2 separate regions of the Homo sapiens genome follow, and region 1 is linked to region 2. The links come from fine-mapping of genetic effects on gene expression. A gene starts in region 2. The other region holds a variant in brackets. All regions are shown on one strand. Distances are between the middles of the regions. Region 1 has its middle 8.9 kb from the start of PDIA3. Region 2 holds the start of STRC (stereocilin).

Evidence for each region. PIP is the estimated chance that this variant, and not a neighbour inherited with it, causes the effect. A credible set is the group of variants that fine-mapping cannot tell apart.
Region 1: its variant is the best candidate, but not a certain one, in a credible set for the expression of STRC in whole blood (TOPMed, PIP 0.58).

Annotation. Positions count from the first base shown.
Region 1 is chr15:43,736,121-43,739,034 of GRCh38, reverse strand. It overlaps the pseudogene CATSPER2P1. Among named protein-coding and RNA genes, the nearest start is that of PDIA3, 8.9 kb to the left of the region's middle. The variant G/A (reference allele first, on the strand shown) is at 1,706.
Region 2 is chr15:43,617,144-43,620,057 of GRCh38, reverse strand. STRC (stereocilin) reads left to right here and starts at 1,258. Exons shown (of 29, transcript NM_153700.2): 1 at 1,258-1,399; 2 at 1,702-2,487; 3 at 2,576-2,600. The coding sequence starts at 1,336.

The sequences.
Region 1 (2,914 bases), 120 kb before region 2:
TCCAAGAATTTTAAAAAGTTATTTTTCATCTTCAGAGAGGACACATTACTTGATGTAGAGTGGAGGCAGTCACTTCTGCACATTCTGTGCTGCTGAGGCAATTTCTGCTATTCGTTCCTCTGAACTTCCTTGGGTTTGTTTAGCTTCTATAAAATTATTCATTTTTCCAGAGAGTAAAAGTGCTACTGCTTCTATAATTTGGACTTCCCTACTTAAACTATTTTAAACTACTCAAAACTATATTCTGCTTTACAAGAGCCTTATTTTACTTCATTGCTCTGTTTGGGTTCCTGTTTTGCAAGGGCAAAAACTGAATAAAAATTATAGCATTCTATTTTCCAGCCACAAATGTGGTCCTCAGCTCTTTCTAATTATATAATCCCATGCTCCTGAGAGCTAGAATTTATTGTTAAGTGAAAAAATTTTGTATTTTATTGAATTTAAGCTGTCATCAATGGTGAAATTCACTGTTTACCAATAAGAAATAAAAATCATGCTCAATTAAACTGGGACACATCGCTGGTTGTAAAATGCATCCTCACTTTGGGAGGCCGAGGTGGGCAGATCACGAGGTCTAGAGATAGAGACCATCCTGGCCAACATGGTGAAACCCCGTCTCTACCAAAAATAATAAAATTAGCTGGGCATGGTGGCGCAGAGGCAGAGGTTGCAGTAAGCTGAGATTGCACCACTGCACTCCAGCCTGGAAACAGAGCGAGATTCCATCTCAAAAAAAAAAAAAAAAAAAAAAAGCATCCTAATTTCATGGATGTTAAAATGTGAAATATTGTCCATCTTAGAGAAATGTGCATGAAAGAAAAACTTACGGAAGAAGTACAGAGCCTAAATAAGCATAGGAGTGCTGGGTGCAGTGGCTCATGCCTATAACCCCAGCACTTTGGGAGACCAAGGCCGGAGGATCGCTTGAGCCCAGGAGTTTGAGGCCAACCTGGGCAGCATAGGGAGACCCCATCTCTACAAGTAATTTAAAGAAAAAATTAGCTGGGCATGGTGACATGTGCCTGTGGTCCCAGTTACCCAGAGGCTCTTGAGCCCGGAAGATCCAGGCTTCCGCGAACTGTGATTATGCCACTGCACTCCTCCAGCCTGGGTGACAGAGTGAGACTCTGTCTCAAAACAAGCATAGGAATAAGTATAGTGTAACCCCATTGGTTTTTAGAAGGGGCCAACCTCTGTAAAATTCTAGGGATGATCGAAGTATGGTTCTGTTCTTTTTGTCTGGATCCAGTTCAGCATCAGGATGAATTTAAAGCCAGAGCACCACAATGTTGATTTCTATTTAGCTCTTAAGCCATTTTAATTTCAGTGTTTTTTTTTCTAGAGCATGGCATACATCCATTAATTGTATAAAAGAGATGAAGAAGGTTGAAAGAGAAAGGCAATGAATTAAGGAATAGCAATTGGTAAATAATAAGGTTCTAGAGAGGAAGTATGCATTCAATTTGCTTTGCAGAACAAAACCAATTTTAGGCAGGGAAGAAAGGAAAAGTTTTAAAAGAAAGCTAACAGAACCAAGTGATTTATTGTTATAATTCGATATACCCTAATGATTGTGGCTTGTTTCTACATTCGTTATAAAGTAGTTCAGATATCATGGCCCTGTATTTTCATTCTGTTCTCAAGACCCATTGCTTTCTTGTGAACTTTGGGACTGAGATAACAGTACAGTAGATGGGGGTGGGGG[G/A]TTGGAGGTAGGGGTAATTAAAGAGAGTAGTCTCTTAGTAGCTGTGTGAGCCCCAGAGTGGATCGCAAGTGACTTGTAGCTGGGCAGACATAACTATATGAACAGATTGGTTGTGGCTGTGTTTTATGGTCAATTCTGTCCTTCCCTGTATTTCACAGGTTGAAGCAACAGTGTTAAGAAGAGAAACTCTTAACTCTTAACACAGTGTGAAGAAAAATGGAACAGTAGTGGGCAAAACTGTGGTTTATAAGTGTGTTCATTCTCCATCATTCGGTTTCCAGCTTCCTTAACTTTTATTCCTCCTTTGCTCTATCCTCACAGAATTGCTGGAATCCACAAATACCAAACTATGGCCATTGAAGCTGACCTTGGAGGGGGCAGCTTGGTTTATCTTGCTTATTTTCATCCTGGAGATCCTTCTTAAGTGGCTATCCAACTTTTCTGTTTTCTGGAAGAGTGCCTGGAATGTCTTTGACTTTGTTGTTACCATGTTGGTAAGGATAGAGATCCTGAGGGTTCGTTTAGTGGGATGAAGAATGTGCCTAGGTGAATCGAAAGAACAAGTTAACATGATAATAGGAAGAAACAAAAATTTACTTAACTTCTTTCTTTTGATTTTTTTTTCCTAAAACTAAACATCAATCATTGCAGGAGTTGTTGGTATTAGGAGCAAAGTAGACTAACTACAACATCAATGCCAACAAGAGCATCTGCCGGTTACTGAGCACTTACTAAGTGCCAAGCACTATTTTAAGTGTTTTCCTTACATTATCTCATTTATGCTCCACAACAACCTAATTAAATAACCATGAATTTTATCCCCCTTTTTATATCTGAACAAGTTGAAGTATAGTGTTTAAGCAACTTAATATAGAAAGGCTGAATAGTAAGCACTTCTCAGAGAATGCTATTCAAAGGATAACGCCCAGGGAACAATGAAGAGGATAAGATGAAGAAGCTGCAATTCTGCCTGGGTGCCTTGGGGTGTATTTTACTTATAACCTGTGTGTTTTCCACAGTCCCTGCTTCCCGAGGTTGTGGTATTGGTAGGGGTAACAGGCCAATCGGTGTGGCTTCAGCTTCTGAGGATCTGCCGGGTGCTGAGGTCTCTCAAACTCCTTGCACAATTCCGTCAAATTCGAGTTATTATTTTGGTCCTGGTCAGGGCCCTCAAGGTGATTTGACTGTTGCAAGCTAAAGCAGGGGGCA
Region 2 (2,914 bases):
CCTCAGCTACTTGGGAGGCTGAGACAGGATAATCGCTTGAATGAAGGAGGCAGAAATTGCAGTGAGCCAAGATAGTGCCACTGCACTCCAGCCTGGGTAACAGAGTGAGACTCCATCTCAAAAAAAAAAAAAAAAATGCCGCGGTGGCTCACACCTGTAACCCCAGCACTTTGGGAGGCTGAGGTGGGCAGATCACTTGAGGTCAGGAGTTCAAGACCTGCCTGGCCAACATGGTGAAACCCCATCTCTACTAAAAATACAAAAATTAGCTGGGTGTGGTGGCACGTGCCTGTAATCCCAGCTACTTGGGAGGCTGAGGCAGGAAAATCGCTTGAACCCAGGAGGCAGGGGTTGCAGTGGTCAGATAGCCCCACTGAACTCCAGCCTGGGCAACAGAGAGAGATTCCATCTCAAAAAAACCAAAACCAAAAAACCAATAAAACAAAAAACAAAAATGACGAAAAAAGACTTCTAACCCTGACCAGACCAGATTATTTTGAATGAAATCTCTTTCTCTGTTCCATGAGCAGTTCTGTGTGTAGGGAGATCAGTCCCTGTGCATAGTGATTTAATCTGGTTTCTGTCTTCTCAGCTCAGAGTTTTTGATAGGGCTTTCACCTAGGCCACAGAGAAAGAACCAAATGATAGGGGATCCCGGAGGGGGAAGGAAAGACCCAAACATTTGAATGGCCTAATGAGCAAATCACATTTCTCTGGGTCTGTTTCCTTATCCATAAGTGAAAAAGTTTGGTGTATGTGATCTCTGGGGTACTGCTCAGCTCTTGACACTCTGTGGTTCTGGGTAGTAGTTGAAAGCAGCTCTCCTCTTCCTGAATTCTCCATCCTTGGACTGGACCTCTCGTCTGTTTATACCTTGCTGTGCAGTTTGTTTCTCCTGGGCGTCATTTCTTCTTCAATTTCCTCAAATCCTACTTGCTTCTTAGCTCCTTCATATCCTCTTTGTTTTCTTTGCTTCTGCAGAACCCCAGATTACACCCCTGGTCTCCAGTTCTCCATCTCCATGTCTGCCTGTTCCTTTCTGCATCACTGGCTCCTAACTCAAGCAATCTCCTTGGGTTTCTCTGAGGGGCCCCTGGGATCCCCTATCATTAGTCCCTCTCACAGAAGCATACCCTTCTCCAGAGCTAAAGGATCAGATATTCAGCGGCTCAGGTAACAAACCTGCTGTCAGGTTACACATATTGTTTCCTGAAAGACCACACTACAGTGTCAGTGGAGCCTCAGGTTGCCTGCAGTGCCCTGCCCTCACCTGGCTATCCCACACAGGTGAGAATAACCAGAACTCACCTCCGGTACCAGTGTTCACTTGGAAACATGGCTCTCAGCCTCTGGCCCCTGCTGCTGCTGCTGCTGCTGCTGCTGCTGCTGTCCTTTGCAGGTAAGAAGAACAGTGAGCAGAACTGGGGATGAGGAGGAGGGTGGCTGGAAAAAGACTTTAAGAATATGGAGGTGAACCTGTTAGATAGAAGGACAAAGGAGAGAGGCAGAGACTTGTGCAAAAGGGAAAAATGAGGGTTAAGAAAAGCAGGCCAAGACTTACTGTAGGCCAGTGAAAGGGGTTCAGCTCACCATCCCCTCACCTCATCTTTAGATCCAGGTAGGGAACTGTGCTCAGGGGCAGGGTTGAGTTTGGGCTCTGTGTTCCTCTCCTTCAGTGACCTCTGGTTTCTCTCCTTACAGTGACTCTGGCCCCTACTGGGCCTCATTCCCTGGACCCTGGTCTCTCCTTCCTGAAGTCATTGCTCTCCACTCTGGACCAGGCTCCCCAGGGCTCCCTGAGCCGCTCACGGTTCTTTACATTCCTGGCCAACATTTCTTCTTCCTTTGAGCCTGGGAGAATGGGGGAAGGACCAGTAGGAGAGCCCCCACCTCTCCAGCCGCCTGCTCTGCGGCTCCATGATTTTCTAGTGACACTGAGAGGTAGCCCCGACTGGGAGCCAATGCTAGGGCTGCTAGGGGATATGCTGGCACTGCTGGGACAGGAGCAGACTCCCCGAGATTTCCTGGTGCACCAGGCAGGGGTGCTGGGTGGACTTGTGGAGGTGCTGCTGGGAGCCTTAGTTCCTGGGGGCCCCCCTACCCCAACTCGGCCCCCATGCACCCGTGATGGGCCGTCTGACTGTGTCCTGGCTGCTGACTGGTTGCCTTCTCTGCTGCTGTTGTTAGAGGGCACACGCTGGCAAGCTCTGGTGCAGGTGCAGCCCAGTGTGGACCCCACCAATGCCACAGGCCTCGATGGGAGGGAGGCAGCTCCTCACTTTTTGCAGGGTCTGTTGGGTTTGCTTACCCCAACAGGGGAGCTAGGCTCCAAGGAGGCTCTTTGGGGCGGTCTGCTACGCACAGTGGGGGCCCCCCTCTATGCTGCCTTTCAGGAGGGGCTGCTCCGTGTCACTCACTCCCTGCAGGATGAGGTCTTCTCCATTTTGGGGCAGCCAGAGCCTGATACCAATGGGCAGTGCCAGGGAGGTGAGTGTGGCCAGGGCTGGGACTGGGATGTGGCAGGGCAAGGAAAGTGAAATTGGGGTAGTTTTCTTCCTTACTCTTTCCCTCCTAGGTAACCTTCAACAGCTGCTCTTATGGTAAGTAACAGGAGACCAGTTCTGAGGGATTGGGCCTGGAAAATCTGGAGGTGAAGAGCTGAAGACCTCAGCCTCTAGAGAGGAAAACTGATGGGAGGAGTGTAGTTTAGTGGTTTTGGGGTGTGACTGTCTGGGTTGGTGTCCCAGCTCCACCTCTTCCTAGCCATATGACCTTGAGCAGGTTACATAGTCTTTCTATACCTCAGTTTCCCCATTTATAAAATGAGAATGATAATATTAGTTACCACAGAGTTGTTGCACCCGGTTAAATGAGTTGATACTGTGTATGCAAACGACTTAAAACCGTGCTGGCA